2 separate regions of the Homo sapiens genome follow, and region 2 is linked to region 1. Evidence: fine-mapped expression QTL. Tissue or cell type: whole blood. Region 1 holds a variant in brackets; the other region holds the start of a gene. All regions are shown on one strand. Distances are from middle to middle.

Evidence for each region. PIP is the estimated chance that this variant, and not a neighbour inherited with it, causes the effect.
Region 2: MLLT3 starts here. The variant in region 1 is fine-mapped to the expression of MLLT3 in whole blood (TOPMed, PIP above 0.99).

What each region holds. Positions count from the first base shown.
Region 1 is chr9:20,298,255-20,302,605 of GRCh38, forward strand. It overlaps a transcript of SLC24A2 not described here. Among named protein-coding and RNA genes, the nearest start is that of MIR4473, 110 kb to the right of the region's middle. RefSeq lists an enhancer at 3,813-4,351. The variant G/A (reference allele first, on the strand shown) is at 2,418.
Region 2 is chr9:20,620,441-20,624,616 of GRCh38, forward strand. It overlaps MLLT3 (MLLT3 super elongation complex subunit), which reads right to left and starts at 2,059. Exons shown (of 11, transcript NM_004529.4): 1 at 1,805-2,059; 2 at 214-394. The coding sequence starts at 1,816. RefSeq lists silencers at 8-127, 1,348-1,397, 1,468-1,617, 2,038-2,497, 2,518-2,657 and an enhancer at 288-417.

The DNA of each region.
Region 1 (4,351 bases):
GTCTTACTCTTGCCACCCAGGCTGGAGTGCAGCAGAGCTATCTCGGCTCACTGTACCTCCACCTTCCAGGTTCAAGCGATTCTCCTGCCTTGGCCTCCCAAGTAGCCAGGATTACAGGCACGCGCCACCATGCCCAGCTAATTTTTATATTTTTAGTAGAGACGGGGTTTCATCACGTTGGCCTGGCTGGTCTTGAACTCCTGACCTCAGGTGATCGGCCTGCCTCGGCCTCCCAAAGTGCTGGGATTACAGGCGTGAGCCACCGCACCCGGTCCAGAAAGACTAATTTTCATACACACTAAAGTGAGAGAGCTTAGATTTAAAACTAGATACGTTCTTCCTAATATACAATGTTCTATCTCAAATCATCATGTTTCCAATGATTTCTATTAGCAGCCATAATAGTAATAGCAGCAGCCTGTGGGCTAAACACTACACTAAGTGCTTTGTATGTACTAAGTCATTTAATCTTTCCAAACAGCACTGAGGAAGATACAACTACTATCTTCATTTTAGAAATGAGGATCTGAGGCAAGAGAGTTGAGCAGCAGGAGAGAGGTAAAAAGGTAGTGAGTTATCCCCTATGCTCTTCATTTCCTTTGCCCTTCTCCTTACTAGAGCCCACTCAGCTAGTTGGGGCAGACTGAGGCTCATATGACTCTAAGTTCTTAATAGCTCATCTACAGACCTGTGCTGAACAGGGAGGATCCTAGAGGACATGCGGCCATGGAGGGTCTGAGAGATGGTTTGGGGGTCGGGATGTATATACAACAGTCCCATAGAGTCATTCCCCAAATAAAGCAGAGAAGGACAATTTGAGGTCTTGAGATAAATAAGCAAGAATGGCTAGATGGGAAAGCTTGGAGGCTTCTGAAGATTCATAGAGAGGGAGCAGGAGCAGGCAGGGCAGGCCCATTAAAGGAATAATAAAAATTAGCCCTTTCGTGCACACAGCCCTGGGTCCCAGGTCACAAAGGATCTTCACAGATGTGAATACCTATTTTATTTAGGGATTCAAAGGTTCCATGTATGAGGCAACATAGCATGTGGGAAAGGAGCTTGGGGACATGAAGAAGGATAGAGCTCTCGAGCAGGTGGGAATACACTAAGGGTGGTCCCAAGAAGGGCTGTTCATGCCAAGAAGTGGATTGACAGGCTCTGGAATGAAGTGAATCCAGGAAGAAGCCAAAGCAGCATCAATCATTTCCTGCCATGCTTGTGATGCCCATCGAACATGATCACTCCCTTGAGGGGGCTCCAATGTCTCATTTGGGAGTGACTCTACCCCAGTTTGTTACTTTGGCTATCATTAGCCAGGAAGGGGAGGTTCCTTATGAATCCATTGGACTGCTGATTCCTGAAGACCCAGAGTGATCCATGAAGGACTCAAGGACAATCCTCTCCCTATTCCTTACCCCCACTACTAGGACCAAATTCAGGTTTAACTTGCCTTCCCTGGTCACCTACTAGGCACTATGCTAAATGCAATTCTAATTTTGGAGACAAAGAAACTCGTTCAGGGAGAAACTTGCTCGATGTCACAGATATCCATAAGTGGCAGAGCCAGGATCCAAACTTGGACCTCTTATTCCAAGTGCATTGCTCTTTTCACTACATCATGCTGCCTTCTAGAAAAATCAGCTAACTCTGTGCTTCTAGACTCTACACAGTATTCAATAACTCTGATGACTTTGAATTCAGGAAATGTCTATCAATTGGACCAGGATCTGCTTTTTAAGCTTATCTTTATTTCTAGTACTTCCTGAGAAAGAGTAAAGTATTCTGAAATATAGAAGATGGATAGGTAGAAAAATGCATATGTAAATACACAGATGATGGTTGGATAGATGGGCAGACAGACTTTTTTAAAATTTTTATGGATACATAGTAGGTATATATGTATTTATGGGGTACATGAAGTGTTTTGATACAGGCATGCCATGTATGGTAATTACATCTTGGAAAATGGGGTATCTATCCCCTTGAGCATTTATCCTTTGTGTTAAAAACAATCCAATTATATCTTTTAGTTATTGGACAGACTTTGAGTTTATTGGACAGACTTTAATTGAGCTCCTCCATCAAACTTTGTGACTTTGAAAAATAGTCACTTAGGTTTTGTTTGTTTGTTTTCTATAAAATGGCCTTGTCAAAGCCCTTCTCATGGAACTATTGTGAGAAACTACCTCTAACAGTGCCTGGTATACCCATAGACTCTTACTATTCTCCCCTTTGTGTTAAAATCATGCTTCAGAATTATGTCCAAATTCTGCAGCAAGGACCCAATTCAAATATTGTTTGAAACATCCAGAATGTCTGTTTTTGACATCAAGTTGGCCCATAGATTTGACAGCCTGGTACCCATAGAGTCCCCACCCAAGAACATTTCCTTCAAAACAAGCTCCTGTTACAGAAAC[G/A]GCCCTGGTTTTAAATATACTCCCTTCTCTCATAAAAATGCCCCAGCCAGCTAAAGTCATTCTATTTAAAATATTTAATTAATACCTTCACAGAGGTCTGGAACTTATTAAAGACTCTTGGGGACCATGTCTTAGGGGCAATGCTTTGTTCTAAGCAGCTCTATGTGTTACAGATAATATAAAGTGCTGGAATGTGCTTTCTATTAAAAGCAGGGACATTTGCCTGCCTGCTGTTGCAAACCCTTTTGTCATCATCGTGACACATTAAGGCATAATCCAAGTACAACATACACACACAAACAGTGTCAATCCATCCATTGAGTAAAAAGAGTCCCAGGAAAACCACAAGAAAGGTCTGGTGATTAGATGAGGGGATTAAAAACTGGAGGAGCTCTTCCTCTACCTCTTCTCCCACCTGAAGAGGCCACAAAGGCACATTGCTCCCCAAGCAAACAAGAGCAAAAACACAAAGGCACACACTTTGCTCTACCTCCAGTATCTTCTTGGCTTCTCAGCCTTTGGCAGGTGAAAGAAACATTGGTTAAAAGTCCTACCTTCCAAGCAAGTAAACATGCTCTTAGTCCCCCTTTGTCTCACAGGCTGAAGACTGGCAATTGCTTCACATCCATTGTTGTCTGGGGAGTACATTTTTTTTTCTTATTATAAAAATGGTATAGGTTCAATCTTGAAAACCTTGGAAAAAATGTAAAAGAAAATAATTATTTTAACCATAACCCTACCACCTAGACATGACTTTGCTGCATTTCTCCCCTTCTATGTGTATACTTTCACAAAGCTGTCATTACCACACATTTACCCTTTTATTTCCAGCTTCTTTTCCCTTAAAGACATTGGGGGAAATGCTCAGGGTATCATAGTAAGAGATGAAGACTTTAAAAGAAATTAAAGCCTTTTTTTTTTTTCAAGCAGTTTTAGGTTTACAGCAAAATTGAGAGGAAGGTACAGAGATTTCCAATATACTCCATGCACCCCCACATGCAGAGCCTCCTCCATTATCAACATCCCCCACCAGCGTGGTACATTTGTTACAACTGTCAGCCAATGTTGACACATCATAATCACTCAAAGTCCATGGTTTACATTAGGGTTCACTCTTGGTGTTGTACATTCTGTGGGTCAGAACAAATGTATTAATGACAGGTATCCACTATTATAGTATCATTCAGAGTACTTTCACTGCCCTAAAACCCCTCTGTACTCTGCCTATTCACCTCTCCCTCCTCGCTAAACCCTGGCAACCATTGGTCTTTTTACTGTCTTCACAGTTTTGCCTTTTCCGGAATGTCATAGAGTTGGAATCATACACTATATAGACTTTACAACTCACTTCTTTCACTTAGTAATATGCATTTAAGTTTCCTCATGGCTTGACAGCTCATTTACTTTTAACGCTGAATAATATTCCATTGCATGGACATACCACCGTTTATTTATCTATTCACCTATGGAAAGATATCCTGTTTCCAAGTTTTTGGCAATTCTGAATAAAGCTGCTATTAACATCTGTGTGTAGGTTTTTGTACAATTTTCAGCTCCTTTGGGTAGCTACCAAGGAGCTCAGTTGCTGGGCTGTATGGTAAGCATATTTTTAGTTTTGTAAGAAACTGGCAAACCGTCTTCCCAAATGGCCATACTGTTATATTTTGCACCCACACCAGCAATCAATGAGAGCTCCTGTTGCTTCCCATCCTTGTCAGCATTTAGTGTTGTCAGTGTTCTGGGCTTTGGTCATTCTAATAGGTATGTAATGGTATCTCATTGTTTTGATTTGCATTTCCCTAATGACAGTGATGTGGAACTTCTTTTCATATGCTTATTTGCCATCTGTATATCTTATGTGGTGAGGTGTCTGTTGAGATCTTTGGCTTATTTTCTAATCAGGTTATTTTCATATTTTGGTGTTGAGTTTTTTT
Region 2 (4,176 bases), 320 kb after region 1:
CTTTCTCTGCGGTGACTTTCACCAAGCCGAAGTGGCGCGCGCGCGGGCAGGCGGGAGCCGGGACCTGGCCCGCGCGGCGCCGCGCACCCGGATCCCGAGGCTACGCCGGCGAGCGCGGCGCGGGGGGCGGGGAGCGGGACAGCGGGACCGCCCGGGCCAAGCGATTGTTTCAAAGACATTTTTTATCAAGACCCTTTTGTATTCGAGCCCTACCTCTTTTTGGCCTAGGAAAGCTTTCGTGCAAGTGGAAGACGACTTTCTCCACAAAGTGCTGTATGTTACTGTGCTCCGGACCGCGTACGAACACCATCCAGTCGTGGGTGAAGCCCTCCACGGTGGGTTTTTTCCTCACCTGGGCGCGGTGCCCCAGCTCCAGCTTCACCTGCACGGCACACTGCGGGCAGGGGGAGGAGAGACAGCCGTGAATAACAGGAAGGCGAGGTTTCGGCAGTGAACGTTGCGCCTGACATTTTTTTCCTCCTTCTTGAAACGCACATAAAAGGAAACGGCGGTGCCCTCTGCATCCACGTTTCACGCGCGTGGGCGCGCACACTCCACACCCCCAAATATACCCGCCCGCCCGGCCCGGCTTGGCCCCAGGCGCCCCGGGCCCCGCATCTACATCGGACAGGATTGTAACGGAATGTTATCCCCAGTCGGGAAGGGGGTCGGGGAAAAGAGGGAGAACACACTCAGCCACGACAAGCACGACAACAAATGCATCGGAAACAAATCAGAAGGCGATGCCGGGGCGGTTTCCCGGCGTGGGAGGGGAGGTGGCTGGGACCCAGGGGGACCGAAGGGCTCCTGGCGAGCCCCCTCCCCGAAAGTACCGCGGCGACAGGCACACGCCGAGGAAGTCTTTGTGTACGTGTGTGTGCGTGCGTGTGGAGCGCTGTGCCAGGCGAAATGGAAACTACAGGCAGCCTCTGCTGATGGGCACAAACTCCCGTGCTCTTGCCACGGGGTTCGTGCACAACAAAAATGAGACGTCGTCATACACACTGAAACACACACACACGCCCGCAGGAAAACACGCCGAGGCATCCATAACTTAGAGCACCCCGCACCCCCCAGCGAAAAGCCCCACGCGATCGGCGAGGCCAGTCGAACCGAGCCCCCGCAACACACTTTCAAGAGCCCAAGTGGCTCCAAAGTATCTCCCACCTCCCCCCAAAAAATGAAATTCAGAAAGGCAGGGCGGCGGGCGGACAGCCGCCGAGCCTCGGCTCGCGCTCAGCACCTCCCGGCGCTGGGGCAAAGTTGCGTGCGGCCCCGCCGCTGTCAGCCCCGCACACTTCGGCTCACACACGCGCGCCGCGGAGAACGCACCATCGTAGCGGCCGCGGCGCTTTGCGGAGGTGCGGCCGCCGAGGCTGCTCGCCGCGTCCCCGGACTGTGCCCGCAGCTCCCGGCGGCGGCGGCTGAAATATGGCTGAGTTATTATTCGCCTCCTTCCACCGTGTGTGTGTGTGTGTGTGAGTGCGCGCGTGTGAGCGAGAGGGAGTGTGTGAGTGCGCTTCTTGTGACTGCAAAGAGGCGAGGAGGGAGGGAGGCGCGGGGGGTGGAGGGGCGAGTGTGAGCGTGTGTGAGTGTGTGTGTGTCTGTGTGTCTGTGTGCGCGCCGGGGGGGGGTGGGGGAGGAGGGGAGCGGAGGCTGAGGGAGAGGCGGCAGCTCCCTGCAAGCCGTACCAACCTTTCTCTAATTGGAACCGCGGAGCGCTGGCGCTGTCTGGGCTGCGGCGGCGCAGGGCGAGGAAGGAAAGTGGGGGAGGGCTTTTATTATTATTTTTGCGCGTACTTACCGAGCTAGCCATGCCTGGGGGCCCGGAGGTTTGCTGGGGTGTTGTGTGGTACCCCCCCCTCCTCCGCCCCCCCTCAGCTGTAATTCATGAAGAGGCTGCTATGAATGAGAGCGCGCCCAGGAGCGGAGGGTAGATGGCGGACATTCTCTGCCTTTTTCCCCCCGCGCTCGCTTGCTCGCTCGCTCGCTTATTAAACTCAGCCCCAAAAGCAAAAGCAGCAGCAGCAGCAGCAGCTCCAGGGTAAAGAAGATGATTGCGGAGCATGCGCCGTGGCGCCTGACACCCGGGCTCCGAGCCTCACAGGGCGGAGGGAGGGCTTGCGGGCGGGGCGGAGCGCGCGGGGAGGCAGAGCGAGCGAGCCAGGGGGAGCTCGAAAGAGCCAATCACCTGCCACCTCCCGAAACCCCGGCGGCCCGCAGCGCCACACTGGAAAGCCTCGCTTAAAGTAACAGGTTCCTGCTGGGGGGGTGGCAGGGAGGGGACGCAGGAGTGGGGAGAGCGGCCAGCTGGGGAGCCATCCCAGCCCCTGTGTAAACTCTGCTCGCCCTACAATAAAAAACGGATTAAAACTGCTGGAATGTAGCCACTGCTTAGAGCCCTCAGCAGCCGGAGAGGGGGTGTTAAATCAAGTCCTTAGCTAGTACGCACGGGGAGGAGGGAGTGGGCTTTCTTTTACTTTCCACCACGTATTTCTGTGGTTTTGTGCTGAAAAGACAAGAACTCACACCCAAACAAACTTACTTAAAGAGAGCGAGAGAAATGCCATCCTGCAAAAAACGAGCATGAAAATAGCAATGACTGAGGCTGTTCTAACCCGCAACGATCCCCTGGCCCCCTGCCCCATCCACTCACAGGCACCCGCCCGCCACCCTCACTCCCCGCCCTTCTGCCACCGCCACCGAAAATTTGAAAATGAAATGAACAAGGGAGAAACAAGGATGCTATTTCCTTGCAAGGGAACGCCTTCCGCTTTGGTAATCCCCGGCTGGGAAGCTTCATAAAGCGGTGCCCAGGTGAAAGCAAGACACCTGGGAGTGCCGGGTACAGACCCTCGGGGACCAGGCTTGGAGTTGTTTTCTTCGGGGGGCTTCCCCTCCTGACAGCCTACTGAGTTGCATCAGAACGTGGAGGATTGTCCTCTGAGGACGCGCGGGGCAACCGGGAGTCTTAAAATAGCAGATAAAGTTAATACTGACTGTAATGTGCGTAAATTGGATTATAATCTTTAGGCGTATTGGTGACAACCAGCGTAATCCATCTCTGAGTATTAATCCGGTTAGACTCCCGGGTGACAGCCAGTCGCAGGAGTGTTCCCAGAGTCGCGCCTCTGCAAATGTTCTCACTCGCGTTGTATTTGATCTCAGTGGCCGGAGATAGAACAGCGCGGCCACGCGTGGGGCGCGGAGAGGAGTATCAACTACTGGCTTCCTTTACAGACGCAGATAACCTTTAAAAAGGAAACGGATAAGATCTAGACGATTGATTTGAAAGTGAAAGATGGATGTGACTTTGGTTCGTTAAAAAAAGATCCTTGCATCTTCCTAGCCCTTAGACCTCTTTTGCCTTCTCTTTACTCCCCTTTTTCCCTCGCCTTCCAACTTCTTGCTGAACCTTGATTTTTCCTTCTCTTCTCCTTGCCTTTCCTCTTTGTCCCTCTTTCTTTCCTCTTTGTCCCTTTCTTTCCTCTTTGTCCCTTTCTTTCCTCTTTGTCCCTCTTCCTCTTTCTGACTGAACTTCCTTGCTTTCCTCTTTTCCCTTTACTTCCCTTTTCCACAAAAGCAAGTTGTCTCGGCCCTTGAATTGAGAAGAGCAGAATAGCGGGGAGGACGTTACCTAGGGCGTCCTGTGTCCTCGCTGTTAATTTTCAGTTCTCCCAGCAGCTCTCACAAAGATCCTGGGAATCAGGTCGGACCACTTGGAACCAACCTTAGTTTCCAAACCAGCAGCCTTCCAACTCAACTTTTGATTCCCTAAAACTGATATTCCGCTGCCTGTCAGTTATAATCAAGAAACTTCTTTGGCTTGAGGTCCCCAGTTCTTCCCAGCCTTCTACAGGATTTAGCATAGAATGGAGCAAACGACTGAAGGTAGAAACATTTTAATCTAAATCCAAGGGCTTAGATTTGTCAACTGACACACATATACATAACTGCATATCATCCTGTAGGTATATGCGTCGCTGTGTCTGTATGTATGTACAAGGACTACGTTTATATTCGCAGAGACAAGCTGTGTGGGTAGTATCTACGTGAAGGGGGGACCTATTTATTGTGCATTATTAAACTTTTCATAAAATAATCAAATTTGAGAGCAGTCCTTTGTAATAATAGTATTGGAAACTAAAGGTTATCTGGACGTGCCATTAGTAAAGC